Homo sapiens: one gene and its partners. The protein of the gene in region 2 purifies or fractionates together with the protein of the main gene of each other region. This does not show direct contact. Each region holds a gene or a part of one and is shown on either strand. Other genes may lie near its edges.

Evidence for each region. Proteins that work in one complex are often made in the same cells at the same time.
Region 1: the proteins of PDHX (region 2) and HMGCL purify together in Homo sapiens (co-immunoprecipitation; one large-scale study listed by IntAct). This does not show direct contact.
Region 3: the proteins of PDHX (region 2) and HSD17B4 fractionate together in Homo sapiens (co-fractionation; one large-scale study listed by BioGRID). This does not show direct contact.
Region 4: the proteins of PDHX (region 2) and NCAPD3 purify together in Homo sapiens (co-immunoprecipitation; one large-scale study listed by IntAct). This does not show direct contact.

The regions. Positions count from the first base shown.
Region 1 is NC_000001.11:23,800,358-23,804,929, reverse strand, and holds the end of HMGCL (hydroxymethylglutaryl-CoA lyase, mitochondrial isoform 1 precursor), read left to right. Parts: intron 1-404; coding exon 405-530; intron 531-2,365; coding exon 2,366-2,467; 3' UTR 2,468-3,045; downstream 3,046-4,572. UniProt on the Homo sapiens protein: Mitochondrial 3-hydroxy-3-methylglutaryl-CoA lyase that catalyzes a cation-dependent cleavage of (S)-3-hydroxy-3-methylglutaryl-CoA into acetyl-CoA and acetoacetate, a key step in ketogenesis. Terminal step in leucine catabolism.
Region 2 is NC_000011.10:34,991,795-34,997,438, forward strand, and holds the end of PDHX (pyruvate dehydrogenase protein X component, mitochondrial isoform 1 precursor), read left to right. Parts: intron 1-520; coding exon 521-585; intron 586-3,119; coding exon 3,120-3,378; 3' UTR 3,379-4,334; downstream 4,335-5,644.
Region 3 is NC_000005.10:119,525,497-119,530,068, forward strand, and holds part of HSD17B4 (peroxisomal multifunctional enzyme type 2), read left to right. Parts: intron 1-420; coding exon 421-527; intron 528-1,636; coding exon 1,637-1,723; intron 1,724-4,397; coding exon 4,398-4,484; intron 4,485-4,572. UniProt on the Homo sapiens protein: Bifunctional enzyme acting on the peroxisomal fatty acid beta-oxidation pathway.
Region 4 is NC_000011.10:134,160,396-134,164,967, reverse strand, and holds part of NCAPD3 (condensin-2 complex subunit D3), read left to right. Parts: intron 1-3,076; coding exon 3,077-3,187; intron 3,188-4,572.

The DNA of each region.
Region 1 (4,572 bases), on a different chromosome or scaffold from region 2:
CCCTGACTGAGTGAGAGTAGCCTGGAGGTGGTGGGGGGTAAGTGGGGGGGGGGTAATAAATGAATCACAGTAAACAACAGGGGTCTGAAATCTCAGCAGTGGGAGGGGGTTAGGCTGGTGATCAGAAAAGGTCTCCCTGAGCAGGTGGCTTTCAGACTGGAACCTAAAGAATGAGAGTTCACCATGAAAGGAAAGATACTGCTGGCAGAGGAAACAGTTTAACAGAAACTAAAAGGAGAAGCACTGTCTCTTTCTGTGGGATTGTCATGTCAACAGAATCATAAGCCAAAGCAAAGAATGACTCTAGAATTTCAGGCAACAGACGATTGGGAGGTTTGCAAGGCTCATCTCTGTGGCCTCTTGTCCCCAGCAACAACTGTGTTTCACCATCCTTATGTTTCTAGATGGGAGTGAGTGTCGTGGACTCTTCTGTGGCAGGACTTGGAGGCTGTCCCTACGCACAGGGGGCATCAGGAAACTTGGCCACAGAAGACCTGGTCTACATGCTAGAGGGCTTGGGCATTCACACGGTAAGCCCACCCACCCCCTGGTGGCGACAGCCCCGAACTGACCAGGGGGCCTGAAGCTGAGAACAAAAGTGGATGGGGGTATTTGGGGTTGTTAAGGTGCTGAGGAGTAAAGAGGGAAAGGGTTAGCCAGGCGCAGTGGCTCATGCCTGTAATCTCAGCACTTTGGGAGGCTGAGGCAGGAGGGTCACTTGAGCCCAGGAGTTTGAGGCTGCAGTGAGCTATGATCCTGCCAGTGTACTCCAGCCTGGGTGAAACAGCAAGACCCTATCTCTTCAAAACAAAACAAAAGAGGGGAAGGGTGTTGGGGATTATGGATATTTGATCTAATATTTTAATGTTTGTGAGAGTAGGGTTGAGTGAGGCCACACGCATGGGCATAAGAAGGCTGGAGTGTCAGGGTGACTTTGACAGTTCAGTCCTAGGAGACACCAGGAACATGGAAGGGGCCCTGGGAAGGGTCAGGTTCATGACCTGAAATGAGTCAGTTCTCTCTTGGCTTTGTTTTGTTCTCTGTAAAATGAGGACAGTAGCGTTAGACAGCTCACCAGGGATCCGCCAGAGTCCACCAGGGCCCTCAGTGGCGGGACGGAAGCAGAATAGCATCTGTGCTTAAAGATCAGATGGAACTGGGTTTAAAGCCTACTCCTGCCACTCCCAGGCTATGAGACCTCAGACAAATTATTTCATCTCTCTGAACCTAAGAAATGGGAATAATAATGCCATCCATCTCATGGAGCCATTGTGAGGATTAAGTAAGAAAACGTACGTAGAGGGCCAGGCGCACGCCTGTAATCCCAGCACTTTGGGAAGCCAAGGCGGGTGGATCACCTGAGGTCAAGAGTTTGAGACCAGCCTGGCCAATATGGTGAAACACTGTCTCCACTAACAATAGAAAAATTGCTGGGCACGGTGGCTCACGCCCGTAATCCCAGCACTTTGGGAGGCCAGGGTGGGCAGATCACCTGAGGTCAGGAGTTCGAGACCAGCTTGGCCGACATGGTGAAACCCCATCTCTACTAAAAATACAAAAATTAGCTGGGTGTGGTGGCACGCACCTGTAATCCCAGCTACTCGGGAGACTGAGGCAGGAGAATTGCTTGAACCCAGGAGTCAGAGGTTGCAGTGAGCCAAGATCACGCCACTGTACTCCAGCCTGGCGACACAGTGAGACTCCCTCTCAAAAAAAAGAAAAGAAAAATTAGCTGGGTGTGGTGGCACACACCTGTAACCCCAGCTACTCGGGAGGCTGAGGCAGGAGAATCACTTGAACCCGGGAGGCAGAGGTTGCAGTGAGCTGAGAGCGTGCCATTGCACTCCAGCCTGGGCGACAAGAGCAAACTCTGTCTCCAAAAAAAAAAAGAAAGAAAAGTTATGTAGAATGCTTATCACAGAGCTGAGCACAGAGTGCACTTCAGCAAATATGAGCTACTGTATGAACAGAGGGTTTCTGTCTGGCCCTTTCAGTTGGTGTTTTTATCCCTCCCTCTCTGCCTCACAATTGTCACTTGAATATCAGTTTTTTACCTCTGTGGGCCAGGCCCTGTGCTGGGCCCTGAAGAGGGAGTACTGAACAAGACTGATAAGATCTGTGCCCTGGTAGTGGCACTACAAACCATGACAGAGATTGGGCATCTTACATGAGGGGGAGTCAGAGGAATAACCCAGGTGCCAGACAGACAGGAGCTCACAGGCAGCTGGTGCCCCGCTGTCAAGGAAAAAGCCTGTTTATCTTCACCTTTACTTTTCAGTATCACAGTTGTCTGTCCATGCTGATGTTTTCCCTGGTGTTGAGGGCATACCATGACTTACCGCATCCTCTAACTTGTTTCTCAAAGGGTGTGAATCTCCAGAAGCTTCTGGAAGCTGGAAACTTTATCTGTCAAGCCCTGAACAGAAAAACTAGCTCCAAAGTGGCTCAGGCTACCTGTAAACTCTGAGCCCCTTGCCCACCTGAAGCCCTGGGGATGATGTGGAAATAGGGGCACACACAGATGATTCATGGATGGGGACATGGAAATGAGAATAGGTTAAATGGTGCAGGTACCTCATAGCCAGCTCTACACAGAGGTCTCTCCTGGCAGAAAGCAGGCGAAGGGCAGGAGGAGCTGCTTGGCAGAAGGACCTCCTGCCCAGACCTGAGGAGTGAGAGGCTTTGAGGGCTGAAGTCTCCCTTTGTTACGGACCCTGGCCCAGGAGTTGAATGCCTGAGGACGTGTGGGAACCCCGTTCCCTACTTAGCATGATCCTTGAGTCTCCTCTCTGGATGGAATCCGCGAGCTGGCCACCTGGCCACCCTCTACACGGCTCCACCCTGCCATGGCCGTGGGGCCCTTGCTCTCTGACTTCTCAGGACACAGGTCATGGAGGTTCTTCCCAAGCTGGCAGAGGCCATTTGTGGAAAGTGGAGAGCTACGTGGTGGCCGTCTGCCAACTCCAGCATCTCTGGAAAATCTCCACGCTGAATGTGATTTTTGAAAACAGCTTATGTAATTAAAGGTTGAATGGCACATCATAATTCCAGCATTCGGTTGTGCAGCTGTGTGTATACATGCGCGTGGGGGAGTAAAATACTTTACCATGTTGCACTCTGAGAGGAAAATGGAGACTATGAACTAGTTTATTAATCTTTGGATTTCCTCCCTGTTTCCCCACCTGAGCCCCAAATCCATAGTGACTGGAAATCAGTGGTTTTGGGCTTACTCAGGAGGCTGCTTGCGGCAGTTGCTGGCCAGAACACCCGACGGGGTTGTTTCTGAGCTTTGCCTCTGTGACTGGGGCTATTGCACAAGCTCCCCTGAGGACACACTTGCTGCTTTGGGCCTCGGTGGCCCGGCCTCTCCCTGGCGCTCCCGGGCCCGGGAGCGCTCACCTGTCGGTTCCCTGGACTCTGCGGGCAGGCGCTGGCTGATTCCCGGCTGCGCGGACACCTGTGCGCTCCTGCATTTAGGGCTCCTTTGCTCTGGTTTCATCACGCAGGATGTCACATTTTGTGCATATTATTCTCTAGCTCTACTACTTTTCATTGTAAACAAACAATCATTTTCTAACCTGCCGTCGTGGAAGGCAGAGTGCAGACCGACCCTTCCCGGCAGGTGGGGGCTGAGAGCCAAGAGCGCTGGAACCGCTAGTGTGGCCTGACAGCTTCCTCCAGCTCCTTGGTTTATTTGCAAACTGGACTTCCAGCACCAGGCCCCCTGCGACCCCCTCCTGCCTTAGTCCCGTGGGATCGGGTAGTTCAAGATTTTGAATTCATGGTTTGGCACACACCGGCAAGTCTGAAAACCTGCGGGTCAGAGTGGGGCGGAGGCGTGGGCCCCCTACCCTCTGCCCCCTGCCCCCTCGGAAGCGCAGCCCTCTTCCAGGGGTTGGGACGAGCTAGCGCGGGGACCCGGGGCACCGGCAAGGACCCACCCGCTACTGGGACCTGGCGCCGGCGGCGCCTCTCGCGGGGTGGCACCGCCCACTTCCGCCTTCCGCGGGCGCGCGCTGCGCAGTCTTCGTCACAGCGCGGAGGCCTTTTGTCCTCCCGCCCTCCCCGTAGTGGCCGTAACCCGAGTGACATGTTTCCTTGGGGGCGTGGAGGGGCGGGGTCGGGGCCGGAGTGGGCCGTCAGCACTTAAAGGGCCCGCGGCTCGGGCGTAGGAGGCGGTGCCTCTGCAGCAAGCGTGGGGCGCGGGAACCCGAGCAGGTTCGGGAGACGGAATGAAGGGCCGGGTGGGCTCGCGAGGGGCCGGGGAGTCCGCGGGGAGCGAGGGAGTTTCCGAGGGGCGGGTCGTGTTCCTGGCAGCGTCCCTCCAGGGCAGGCCCGCCCCCTTTGTCCCAGTTCCCCGCTGCCCGGGCTGGGGCGGCCGGGGTTCATTCATTGCCGGCCTGAGGACTCCTAGCTCGGCCCCGCTCCGCGCTACAGCCCAAAGCCCAGCCTGAGACCCAGCCGCCCTCGTATGCCCACGGCCTAGCTCCCCTTCCCTCCAACAGACAGACTGGGAAAACCGAGTGGGCGACGGCTGAGCAAGGTCACTCCGCTGTCGGGGGCGCAGCCGGC
Region 2 (5,644 bases):
AGCTACTCAGGACGCTGAGGCAAGAGAATTGCTTGAACCTGGGAGATGGAGGTTGCAATAGGCCATAATCACACCACTGCACTCCAGCCAGGGCAACAGAGTGAGACTTCTCAAAAAAAAAAAAAAAAAAAAAACTAAAAAACACTAGATTGACCAGAATGGATTCTTGTATTTTTTTTCTTACCATAAAGTTTTATAGGCAAAATAGAAAATTTCATTTTGCATATAGGAAACTCTAAAGCATTTTGCATAATAATTGATGGTACACAGGGTAATTCCCACATTTGAAAAATTGTTAAAGGAAGTGATTTTTCTAGAGTTTTGATTAACAGCTTTAGTTTCTTGAATTATCTGTGCTCTTGTTTGTTCTTATAATTAGAGAAAATTATTTTTATATAGGTAACAAAATCAAATCAAGGCATATCAGAGATGAGAGTATATGATGTACAAATATTTCAAGTGACAAGATCAACTGTATAACATTTTGTTGGTTGTCCTATTCTGTTTGTATTTTTCTCAGGCTCTATCAAAGAAAGCAAGAGATGGAAAATTGTTGCCTGAAGAATACCAAGGAGGATCTTTTAGGTAAAATTTAAACTCTTAATTATCCATAGCATCAAACAGATAGATGTAAGACTTATAAAGTCCCTGTCAGCCTTTCATTTATCTGAAATATTTTTTAAAATTTAAGCTAAAAATACTTTATTTAGACAATAGAATATCTGAAAAAATTCTTCAGACTAGTCAGGCTTTCATATTAAAGCTAGTAGGAACCTATTAGTGTTGAACTAAACGTTCGTTGGACATTGACTAACATGGAATGATAAATATTATGTATTCTTTAGTATCTGACCCACCCCCAATATTAATGTCTGTAATATTATATTGCTATGTGAAACAACCACTTATTTATTATTGCAGCATATAATATTCTATTGTATAAATATACCAGAATTCATTTTACTGTTGGTGGGCATTTGCGTTGCTTCCAGTTCGGGGCTATTACAAATTATGGTGCTATGAACATTCTTATTAGTGTCTTATAGTGAATGTATGTACATTTTTTGTTGTATAGACCTAAAAGTAGAATTCCTAAGTTAGAAGCTTTAGCAGCTACTACCAAACAATTTTCCAAATGGTTATACAAATTTACACCTCCACCAACGGTCCTGAGAATTCCCATTGCTCCACATTCTTGCCACTATTTAATAATGTTAGGTTTTAAATTTTAACAATTCTTGGGGTGTGTAGTGGTACTCTTTGTAGGAAAATGCAAATTAGTGATGTTGAGTACTTTTCACTCATCAGCCGTTTGGGTATCTGGTAATTCATGAGATAAAGTACCCACTGCAATCTGGTGTCCATTTAAAAAAATGATGTATAGTTCTTATTTCTGGATATACAGACCTTTATAGGATATATATTGTTTCAAATAGCTTTCACACTCTGTGACTTGCCTTTGGGACTCTCTCGGTGATTTTTTTAAATGAACGGAAGTTCTGAGTTTTAATGAATTCCTATTTATCAGTATTTTTCTTTGTAGTTGGTACTGTTCATTTTCTGTTAGGAATTTTTGCCTATCTCAGAGTCATGAAGTTACTCTTCTGTGTTATCTTCTAAAAGCATTTACGTTACTTTTCACATGTAGATCACAATTCAACTGAAATTGGATTTTGTATATAATGTGAAGTTTCAAGTGCTCTTTTTTCCCCATATGGATACTAAATTTACACAGCATCATGTATTGAATATTGATTTCTCCTTTTTCATAGCATTGAAAAGGTGATTATATATGTGTTGGTCTAGTTCTGTGCTATTTTTTTTCCACTGGCCTGTTTGTCTATCCTTTGTTTACTACCACCAAGCTATAACTCTTGATAGCTGGTAATGAAGTCTTCCAATTTTGTTCACCCTCAAGATTGTCTTCTGGCTTTTCGTATTTCCAAATAAATTGTAAAATTGATTTGCCATTTTTCACACACACACCCCTTGCTGGTTTCTTGATTGGGATTGCATTAAGTCTTTTGATGATTTGAGAATTGACATCCTTACAGTATTGAGTATTCTAACCTGTGAATATGGTAGAAACCATTGTGTATTCAGTTATTTGATTTCTTTCAGTTATGTTTTATAATTTTCTGTGTAGAGGTCTTGTATATGTTTCATTAGATTTATTCTTTGGTATTTGTTTTTTGATACTATTATAAATGGTATTGTTTTAAATTTTTATTTTCTAATTATAGCAACTTGTATGTAGAGTCATGTGCCACTTTATGATGGGGATATGAGAAATGCATTGTTAGGCAGTTTCATCATGCAAACATCATAGAGTGTACTTACGCAAATCATGCAAACATCATAGAGTGTACTTACACAAACCTAAATGGTACATGCTGCTACACACCTTAGCTGTATGATATAGCCAGTTGCTCCTAGACTGCAAACCTATACAGCATGTTACTCTACTGAATACCGTAAGCAGTTGTGACACAATGATGAGTATTTGGGTATCTAAACATATCTAAGCATTTTTAAAATGTACAGTAAAAATGTAAAAAGTAAAACATGGTACACCTGTTTAGGGCACTTACCGTGAATGGAGCTTGCAAGACTAGAAGTTGCTCTGGAAGAATCAGTGAATGAGTGAATGCTTAGGACATCACTATACACTACTGTAGACTTTATAAACACTGCACACTTAGGCTACACTAAATTTATTTTTAAAATAAAGTAATTGCAATATGATGTTATGACAGCTATGATGCCACTAGGCAGCAGAAATTCCTGAGCTCCATTATAATCTTATAAGACCACCGTTGTATATGTGATCCTTCGTTATGTGGGACATGACTCGATATAAAATGGATTGTTATATTGACCTTTTATCTGATGACTTAACTAAATTTACTTATTAATTTTACTAGTTATCTATAGTCTCATTTTTCCTGTGTACACAATTAATTTATTTGTAAATACTAAATGTTTCCTTTTTTCATTACTCATATATTTTTTTCTTGCCTTACTACACTGCCTAGTAAAATATATAAAATATGTGCTTCACGGAAAGGGGACTTTGATTAAGGACATGCCTCCTTCAGAGCTTTTTCTTTTCCCCCTAGTATTTCCAACTTGGGGATGTTTGGCATCGACGAATTTACTGCAGTGATTAACCCTCCTCAGGCCTGCATTTTGGCGGTTGGGAGGTTCCGACCTGTGCTGAAGCTCACTGAGGATGAAGAGGGAAATGCCAAACTGCAGCAGCGCCAGCTCATAACAGTCACAATGTCAAGTGACAGTCGAGTGGTTGATGACGAACTGGCAACCAGGTTTCTTAAAAGTTTTAAAGCAAACCTAGAGAATCCTATCCGACTTGCCTAGTCCTCAAAGATAAGAAGTTGGTGTTCAGCTTAGTTGATTCAGTAGTTGTTACCAAGAAACATATGTTATAGGAAAACAACTTGGTATTTAAGTATGAAGTGGATGAAATGTTTATTTATTTAAGGTGAAAGCATTTGACCCAGGGTGTCTTCATCTTCAATTTGGGTTTAATGTTATAGAAATAAATGATGATAAACTCTAACTAATAAAGGAAAGAGAATATTTGGTTACTCAGATCCATTTTTAACCTCTGGTGCTGTATAAAGGGAATATTAAACTAGATGTAAATCAAAGTATATGTTTGGCTCATTTGAGCATTTTGGAATATTTGAGAATGTATGATACATGTAAAATTAAAAAAACTATTAGAACTGTACCATAATTATGTTGAAGGTAGAAGTGATCTTCAAAGAGATGGCCATTAACTTAGCAGTGGGACCTCACTTTTACAAGCACTGCTCTAGATATACTTGAAGAATTTAATAGGTACAGAAGTTTATTCTGGATAATAAATAAATAAGGATCACACTGTATTAGGGGTTATGGCAACATTATTGAATTTTTTATGTACATAAAGCCATATGTTTAGGGTGGTTTCTATCTGTCTTGTTTTTCACTTATATAACACTGTGAACTTCTAAAGCAAGAGGATAAAAGAAGCATGAATGAAAAGAATGACATTTCAAAAAAATGGTTCAATGAAAAACTATAGCTAAAATATGTAAACCTTTCTAGGTAAACCGCTTGCCTTCATCTTGAGTCGGAATATATTTAAATAAATTGTGTTATCTCTTGCCAAACATTTTGTTAGTGTTTATTTAAAAACAAAATGTTGTTTCTTAATGCATTTAAATCAGTTTTGTATTGTGCAGTAAAATGTGAGAAAATATAAACATTTCTATTGTATTTTAAATGTTAAAACACAAAAGTTCAATAAACCTTGAAGTTGATTAGTAGTTTTTCTAGAACACCTTTAAAAGGGCTCTACAGGAGAAAAGACGGAATTTAAAATTAGTATGACATTAGGAAAGTAACTGATAGGAAATGTAAAACTTTGGAAAGAGAATAGAAGACTTATGAAGCCAAACAGATGAGAACTATCCTTTTTATTTCACTAATATGAAATTTTCACTAATTATTATAAAGTTTAGAAGAGTTTGTTTCTCTCTTTTGGCAGCTCTGCTATAACTGTCAAGATAACTATATTTAAGTTGGATGGTAATGAATGGTAATTTAATTAACTTGTCACAAAAAGGTTTATGTTAGTGTCAGCTGACATGAATCAATAGAAGAAAGGCTAATATAGTACAAGTTGTATGGTATGACATGATGAATTATAAACCCTAACAGAAGAGCCTTCTAAAATAATTAGCACCCTGGTGTATTAATTGTTAAGAAAATGCTTAATCCAACTATCCAACTCAGTTTAACAAGCCATTTAAAAAAAATAGTCTTCAAAACTTTTGTCATATTAACAGTTACACTGAAAATTATAACCAAAGGCTATTTTCAAAATAATTTTTATGTTACATTATTTCCAAGGTCAGTTTTAATCGAAATTATTATTATTATTACTACTTTTTCTTGAGATGGGGTCTTGCTCTGTGGCCCAGGCTGTAGTGCAGTGCTGGGATCACAGATCACTGCAACCTCGACCTCCTAGGCTCAAGTGATCCTCCTCCCTCAGCCTCCCGAGTAGCTAAGGACTAAAGGCATGCACCATCATGCCTGGCTAATTTTTCTATTTTTTTTTTTTAGAGACAGGGTCTTGCCATGTTGCTCAGGCTGGTCCCAAACTCCTGGGCTCAAGTAGTCGACCCACCTTGGCCTCGCAAAGTGCTGGGATTACACAGGCATGAGCTACTGTGCTAGGCCGTTGTTTTTGTTGTGGTTGTTGTTTGTTTGTTCATTTTAATTTTTATATCTGAGGAACAGAACATGATGAGGCAGCCATAAATAAGCCTGACTCAGAGTTCTGCTTTTCATGAACTGACGTACATAAGCAGTAGTGCATCTGTTTCCCTATAGGTGAAATGGGCATTAATATTTACTCAGCCTGCCTTAGAGAGTTGAACTGTACAAGGGAAATCGCTGTATAAATTTAAGATGTTTTAATTCATGGACCTCACAACCAGGCTTTTCATATAATCACCTGCCTCTCATGGTTTGACTTCTCAGCTTCTGGTACAAATGCTTGTTCATTCTGACCAAAAATATTGTCTCTGGTATTTCTATACTGATGAGGTGGTTTAGATTAAGGAAGTTT
Region 3 (4,572 bases), on a different chromosome or scaffold from region 2:
TCCCGCTAGTGCGAGGTCTAGGATAGGACCACGAGGGTGGGTGTGTGAGTTATCACAAAGGACAAGGTCATTGGAGAGAGAGCAAGGAACTGAAAGGTTAGGGAAGGATCATGTACCTGTGTGGATGTTGAGAGTACCCTGGATGATTTCATGGTTACAACCAAAACTAAACAAAACAATTGTGTTTCCAGATCTCTCACATTCTTTTCCTGTTTTGTTTTTTTTTTTTCTTTCTTTCTTTATTTCATAATTTCCTCCCAGGAAATACTCTTTAAAAAATATCTACTGTGTTTCTTAAAATAGATGGTATAATTCCTGCTAATGCAGTCTAAGGACATTTTTAAAGTCCTGAATTAACTACACTTGATTTTTAAACTTTAAAGGTACCTGTATCTAACTCAGTGTTCTCTCTTTTCCTAGGTTTTGACAAGCCCATATTACATGGATTATGTACATTTGGATTTTCTGCCAGGCGTGTGTTACAGCAGTTTGCAGATAATGATGTGTCAAGATTCAAGGCAATTAAGGTAAATGTGTATTACTACGTAATTTGAATATTACTTCCTTTTTCTATCTTTAGAGAAGAAAAGGGGTTTTAGTGATTTAATTGAAAATAGATATTGTACTACAGCAATGTACATTTTTATTATTTCATTGACCTGGCAATCAGCACACTTTCTTTTTGTAGCTATAAATAGCTCTGTTGCACATGCACCAGGAAGGATGCACAGTTGCAATTTTGACAGATTAACTGGGTTGCTTTATAAATTAATTAGGTGCATATATTATATATATATATATCAGTACGTATGCCTTGAAAACTCAAGATTTGCTTTTTTTAACTGTTTTATCATTTTCATTAATTTAATTAAAAATGTTAAGTGGCTGATTAAGTCCAATAAACATACATCTACAGCAATATAATGACTGCATATTGTTTTAACTCTGTACTTTTTAGTTGATTTCAAATTTTTATCCATTATAAATAACAAGGAAAAATATCCATGCCCATATTATTTTTGTGTATGTTTAAGCCAAAAGATGTACACTTAAAAAAGTTTAAGGGGTTGTCAAATAGCTCCAAAAGCTTTTAATTTATCCTCCATGCAGTAGTGAAAATATATTTTCTGATGCATTGCCTTTGATAACACTAATTACTCTCATGCTTTTCATTTTGTTACAACTATTTTTTATTATCCAGTAATATATACACAGAGAAAATAATATAAAAAATTATGAAATAAAAAGTGGAATTATTTTGCCCTGCATACTCACCCCAGGCCTCATTCCTTAGACTTAATTTGTACCACTTTTAACTGTTTCTTTAAGTTGTTCTGATGTACCTATATAACTCACCTAATATGATTATGGTTTTATTTCTTGATTTGTCAAGATAAAAAACACTATTTTTTGATTCCATACTTTGAAAGACAAAGAATTGGCTTACTTATATTAGTTACATCTTTATTTTACTAATTTTATCATATTATACTTAGGTCTTTTATGAATTTAAATATCTTTAAACCTTGATTTTTTTTTTCTTTTGTGCTCTCTAGTTTCCTTTCCAATTTTTTCCTCCTACAAGTAAAAGAGTTTCCTTTTAAAACATTTTTAACCCCACAATTCTTTTTTAAAGGCTCGTTTTGCAAAACCAGTATATCCAGGACAAACTCTACAAACTGAGATGTGGAAGGAAGGAAACAGAATTCATTTTCAAACCAAGGTATGAATTTTGCTTTTTCACCCTTCTCACATGCTTTATCATTGTGTTCCATCTTACCATTTTTTTTTGGTTAGTACTATGGATAGAAAGTTCTTTTTAAGTAATGGTAAATTTTAATTAAAAATAAGATACAGCTTGTCTGGTGTTTTCAAAATTTTTATTTATCAGGCAACACTTAATAAAATAGAAGTGTTTTGCACCCTGTGTTTTATTTTCTCTTTTATTTTCAACTAAATTGGTAGCTATCTATGTAGCAGTGGCCCAGCTATTCTGAAAACCCAGCCAACCATGTCTTTTTGGCTCAACTAGTCAATCAAGTCATTGTCAAAATATCATCTTAAAAAATTTAAAGGCATGACTCAGACAGATATACAGTGAAAACATGACAGAAATCTATCTGACTCATTAATGAAGGATCTTGCAATATGATAAAACATGTTCGAAAAAAAATTAGAACAACAGTTTATATGGTCCAATAGGAAAGTTATTCTAAAATAATTTTGCAGAGTTAGAGACAAAATTAGTTAATATCCTATAGAACAATAAAATCTTATCCTTTATGAGTTTTCTCTGGACAGAAATCATATGCATCTTGATTACACAAAAAATCCACAAATTAACAAGTTACATCACAGAGTCTGGGCCTAACAAATAGTAAATGAGGTTATTTTGGGGTGAGGCTGTTAGCAATGCTCCAGTAAAATACTAAAAGGACATGCAATCATTGTTTTATTTGCAAGTTATTAAAAGACAGTTTTTGTTAACACAGTTGACCAGGCTAATACTTTTTGGCTTGATCATTTCATGCTATATAGAGCATATTAAACAACTCCAATGATAATAGGAACAGCTTTCATTTATTGAGAACCTATAAACTGGCAATAGTATTTTCTTTAATATGCATAATAAATCTGTATGTAAATATAAGAAAATCTAGGTTCCTAAGAAAATCTAATCTAGGTGTCCTAAATAACTTGCTCATGGTCACACAGCAAGTGGTTGAGCTGGGATAGAAACCCGATCAGCATGGCTTCAAAGCTTTGATTACAGGCCCCAAATGTCTTTTCTGTATCATGTTTTCTTTCACAAATAGATAACTGCAAAATTCTTCTTACATGGTTGCTTTACTCCTAATTCCTTTCTGCTGGTTGCAATATCATTTTCCTGCTTAATTTGTACATATTGTTTATTTTACTTTTCAAATTCCTCCTGTCCTTCAGGCTTAAGTTCAAGCTCCACTTTGCTCTTAGAGACAGTCTCTTACTATTCCCCACTTTCCTACCCATAGATACACTCAAATTGGTGTTCTCTGAAAGCCTTTGCAGCTAATATCTGTGCCACATATTTTGGAGCCCTCACATTTTCTAATTTGTTTTGTATGAGTAAGTTTTGCTTTTTGATTAAGATTATGAACTCTAAAAGTGTTAAGGACCATGACTATATTACAGGTTTTTATTTTCCTGCAATTCTGGTGATGAATAGTATGTAAATAATTTCTATGGATACAAACTTGAAGGGCTGAGAAATGATTAAATGTCTAAATATAATGTATTCTTGCCATTTTGTTAAATTCTAAGCATGCTGTCTTATCTTTTCAGCATATTTGCTATATTTTTCTTCAGTGATTATAGATATTCTTTTTCTATTAGTTTTAGGACTCCTTCTCTCCCTGCCTCCTTTTCTCACTTTCTCCCTCCCTTCCTCCTTTCCTTTCTATTCTTAAGATATAAGAAACATTTTAAACCAGTGTTTTAAAATGATTTGCTTGATTTGGTAACAATAAAGTAATTTACTGAAGTGCATTTTGTTCATTAATTATCTCTTTCCATGCTTTTCAATGTATGTAATTTGAAGTAAAGTGAACAAATTACTTGAAAGATCTTTTTTCCTCCAAAATATGATGAGATGTAGTCAAGAGAATGATCTTCTTGATTGTTAAAAATCAAAGTTTTAATAAACGCTATGTTAAACTTTAGAAACTTATCCTATACATTTGTAGCAATAACAATTTTTATGAAAGAATAGCCATTGGAATAATTTGAAATGAAGGACTGGGAATTAGAATTTGAATTCCTTTAATGACTATTTTGATAAAAGCCTATTTAGACATTTAGTTCATGCTGTGTACACTTCCTCTTGAAATAAGACCTGGAATTACTACTTAAAAAACACTATTATGATTTGTTCCTAGCCAATTTTATTCTATATTAGCAGAACAAATGTACTTTGAGTACCATTACCTCATGTGGCTATTGTGCTATGCCTTTTACTATTTATAAGGATTCAGCATGGACTGAATTCTGTTTATAAGAGTGCATCCCCTGATCCCCACTTCCCCCCCAAAAAATGCCCAAAATACCAAGGCCCAGTCTCTATCAGTGTATTTACATTAGAATTTTGGGGGATGGGACCTCATAGGGTTTCTTTGTTTGTTTGTTTTAAAGGGCTCCAGCTGATTATAAAGCCAGGTTTAGTAACAGTTGTATTAAATCAGAAAGCCTTTATGTTTGTTCATCTTGACATTTACTTTAGCAGCCTTTTATTTTATCTGGATTATTATATTCTTTTTCATATGAGGCAAAAATAATAAATTTTAAACTTTGTACTGTTTCACAGTGAAATTACACTTCCATTGTAATCAGAATAAATCTTTTTTTTTTCTTCTCCTCCTAAGGTCCAAGAAACTGGAGACATTGTCATTTCAAATGCATATGTGGATCTTGCACCAACATCTGGTACTTCAGCTAAGACACCCTCTGAGGTAGGTTATAAAAATTAGTATCCAAGCCACTTCCTCATTTAGGAATTTCAGTTAAGGTGACTTTAAGAGTGGTTAGGCTACGTTAGAA
Region 4 (4,572 bases), about 99 Mb from region 2:
CTAAGCTTATGTCACAAGTGAGTGTGCCCCTCCCCCTAAGCTCATCTCACAAGTGAGTGTGCAGCTCCCCCTAAGCTCATGTCACAAGTGAGTATGTAGCTCCCTCAAGCTCATGTCACACGTGAGTGTTCAGCTCCCCTAAGGTCATTTCATGAGTGTGAAGTTCCCCTAAGTTCATTTCACGAGTGTGCAGCTCCCCCAAGCTCATGTCACAAGTGAGTGTGAAGCTCCCTAAACTCATGTCGCAAGTGAGTGTACAGCTCCCCTAAGCTTATTTTACAAGTGAGTGTGCAGCTCCCCCAAGCTCATGTCACAAGTGATTATGCGGCTCCCTCAAGCTCATGTCACAAGTGAGTGTGCAGCTCCCCTAAGCTCATGTCACAAGTGAGTGTGCAGCTCCCCTAAGCTCATTTCACAAGTGAGTGTCCCACTCTTCTCACCATCTACTGGCTTCCGTGTTCTCCCTGGAATCCTGGTGCCATGCTCTGGTGCTGACTTCTTTCTTACTGATGGCTTTAACTCTTGCCAGATGGTGACAATTCTCAAACCTGTTTCCCACTCCAGCATTTCTCATGAGCCTGAGCTCAGGTCCCCCTGCTGCCAGGACGTGCTCCGGGTGTCTCTGACTTACTCTGTCAAAACTCCCTCAGTCATCTCTTCTTTCTGCTCTTCATCTCCTCTTTCTCCCACAGTTTATGGTGCTCTTGCAGACTGGAGTCTGGTGTGTCAGGCTGAGGCTTTTGTTGGCAGGAAGTGTAGAATTTGGATCTGAATGACTGGGGCAGAGCTTGGCTGCCACAGGCCTCTGCAGGCCTGTGTTTTCCTCCTAGCCTGGATTGCCAATGTGTATTTCCCACCTGGCCTCTGGAGGCTTTTGACTCCAAGGATATAGACTCTGATCATATCTTGCCACAAGATCCTGCCTGTTTTCTCTTACCAATCTATCTCTCTAGTTCTGACCTTATTTAAGCTTATCCCATTTCCATGGTTTCCTTACCACCCTTTCTGTTTCTGGTTTCTTTCTGTCACAGGCCATGTACCACCTTGCTGCCAGAGCAGTCTTTCTTTCTTTTTCTTTTTTTTTTTTTTTTTTTTTGAGACAGAATCTCACTGCGTCGCCCAGGCTGGAGTGCAGTGGCGCGATCTCAGCTCACTGCAAGCTCCGCCTCCCAGGTTCACGCCATTCTCCTGCCTCAGCCTCCCGAGTAGCTGGGACTACAGGCCCCTGCCACTGTGCCTGGCTAACTTTTTTTTTTTTTTTTTTTTTGAGACACAGTATCACACTGTTGCCCAGGCTGGAGTGCAGTGGTACGATCTCTGCTCAGTGCAAGCTCTGCCCCCCTGGGTTCATGCCATTCTCCTGCCTCAGCCTCCCTAGTAGCTGGGACTACAGGCACCAGCCACCACGGCCGGCTAGTTTTTTTGTATTTTTAGTAGAGATGGGGTTTCACAGTGTTTGCCAGGATGGTCTCAATCTCCTGATCTCGTGATCTGCCCGCCTCGGCCTTCCAAAGTGCTGGGATTACAGGCATGAGCCACCACACCCAGCCCAGCAGTCTTTCTTAAGTACAAATTTGATCATTTTATTATATCTGAAACAGACTAAAGGCAGGTTGACTGTGAGGGGTGGCAGGAAGCTTTTGGGTGATAGATGGTGAGTGGTCTGTAGTGCTGGTTATTCCATATAGACTTTTGTCAAAGCTCATGGAAGTGTTTGTTTAAAATGGGTAAATTTATTACATATGTTATACTTCACTAGTGAAATCTTTAAAAACTATGCTGGTGGCTTCCTGTCATCTTCTGAATAAACCCTGATTCTTCTTTTTCAAGGTAAACAAGAACTTCTGGTGTGCCTTCCACCTTTCCCATACCTCCCTCCATCCTCACCTCTAACCTCTCCACTTCAAATTGCCATCTGCACCTCAGTTGCGAGCTGCCCCCTACTCGTGTGCTCTTGCCTCTGGGTCTAAAGTCTGCAGCGCCCTCACCCACCCATCCTCCCTTCTCCACACATCCTCAGGATCATCCATCAGATGGCCATGCACTCCTTAGGCATCCCATCTCCATACCTAAATTCCCTAACACCCTGCCACTTAACACCTCTTCCCTTGAGACACACACTTTCTAGAAGTGGCTGGAGGGCAGGGATGCTTAGCTTCATTTTGCATCCTCAGAGGGTTAGCTCTTTGCCTGGACAGAGAAGGTGCTTGATAATACTTGTCAAGTGAATGCATGGAAGCCACTTCTTAAGACTATTCCTGAACATAACATCTGCTCACATCTGGGTTTATTAAATTGCTTATTTCTCTACTTGTTGTCCTTCTGTTTCAGGAACTCTGATAAGACTTTTTAGAAATGAGTAGTTTACAAGGAAGAAACATACACTAGTGACTTTAAATGAGAAGGAAAAGAGTAGTTTCAGCTTCAGGAGGATAAATCTTGCATATGTGGGCTACTATAGTGCTTTTTTTTTAATTTAAAGAGATTCACTGGAGAATATTTGTGGTTAGTGATCATTCAAGGTAAAGTGTGAAGACTTGGTCAAATCAGGTACTATATATATAAATTCATAGTATTTTGTAGATGTGTACACAGAGAGAGAGACAGAGCTGGCTGTCTTCATGCTTAGCCATTTTTAGACCATTGTCCCTTCACCAGCAGGAATACGAAGTGTCCCTCTGGGTAGCCAGAACGAGCTGACTTCTGTTCCAAGGGGAGGGTGTTGAATTGAGGACTGAAGGTGGAGCAAGAGCCAAGGTCCCTCAGGGTCTTCTGTGGAGATTTGGGGCTTTTGTCAAAAGCTACTCAACATGTTTCTAATTCTTTTTCCCCATTTAGAATATATGAGTAGTATTTGTCCCCACCCTATCTTACAAAGCCTTCAGAGTGTTTTGAGGTAATGCTTACAAAGTCTCCCAGAGAAAAGCAGAGGTCCTCTACATCCAGTATCATAATGAAAAGCAAAAATAAACTTACATAGTGTGGTAGGGTGGCTCTACTCAAAGAACTAGATCAAGGAGAGGCCTGTCTTTCAGAAGTTCATACATCTAAAACATGTCTTTGTTTGTGTTACCAGGTTCAGAAGAGGAATTTCATAGAAAATATTATTCCAATTATCATCTCCCTGAAGACTGTGCTGGAGAAAAATAAGATCCCAGCTTTGCGGGAACTCATGCACTATCTCAGGGTAAGGGTGGAGCCTGTGCTTTTGTGGTTGTTGTCCTACCAGTTCATTACTTAGGATCTTCTGCCAGTTATGACAGTGCAGGCAATCCGTGAATGATTAGAACCCCAAATTCTGCAAACCCAACATTACCTTGGTAACTGCTGTGGAGCTAGGGGTTGGCTGTGGGTTCCACCAAAGCCGCTCTTTCCCTTGGATGTGCAGCCAGGGCCGTGAAGAGCCGGCCCACTGTGCCAAGCACGTCTTCCCTTAATGGAGTTCAAGTCCATCTGGAAAACTTTCCCAGCTGGGGTCAAGAACACAGTCATCTTCGTTCATGCTGCTTGGGGGTAAGGTGAAAGTGAGTCTTCGGGTTTGATTTCAGGGTGCTTACCTTTTGCACTGACTCAGATTCACAAGGTCAGGAAATAACTGCCCTGCAGGAGCTGCCTTCGGAGCTGCCATCACCAGGCTGAATTCTTTGTCAAGCAAGGGGACCATGAGGAGCTCAGTCGGAGCAAACCCAGGATGTGTTGACTTGCAGGGCGGACCTAAGTGGGGCCTCAGACCTTTCTTGCAAAATCTTTTACTAAGAAATAAATGCAACATAGTTTTTCTTTAATTCAGCAGTTATAGCTCTGTTCACATTATGTGTTTTTCTTCCTCAAAAAAATGCTACAATTTTTTTTCCAATAAAGGCCTCAACAAAAATTACATTGAATATAAATTTTCAAATAGCTTTTTATACTAGGAAGCCAAGGTAGGAAAGATAGTCTCATTGTATGATAAAAATAAAAACTTCCAAATATTCTTGTATTTATTGCCTGACTTTAGACCCTAGAAAGGAAAAAAAAAAACAAAAACAGAGCTTTGATCCTACATAGACTACTTAAACACTTAAGAAAAATAAGCCTTCCTCCTGCTTGTGAGCACACACACAGGATGGCCACACGTTGCTTGTTGTCAGTAGCTTGAGGGAGTCTCTTCATTGGCCTGTGGAACCCACTCCTAGTGGCAGCTGGAAAAGTGCATGGATTCCTTCTCTTTGTTGAGACTTCCCTCCCAGTTGGAACTGCAGTGTCTTTTTCTCCCTATTACTGTTAGGTGGAATGATTCTTTCTCTTAGCAAAGTGGTCTTGCCCCTGGCACCCCTCTTTAAGACCTAAGAATGTTTTTCCCTAGGTATGAGAAAAGGTTTTCTGTAAAATCTTCAGAAGAAGACACAAAGATGGGATTTGAGCCTTAGTTGGAATCCCCTGAGAGCCAATGGGGAGGCTAATGTAGACAGATGAGCAGCTTTTAGATCCATGCATCCTGGGACTTGCTCCAGAGGCTGTGTCTGAGCATGTCTTTCTCCCATTGGGAACCTGGGAGAGATTGCCCATTAACTGCCACATAGCCAGGATGCT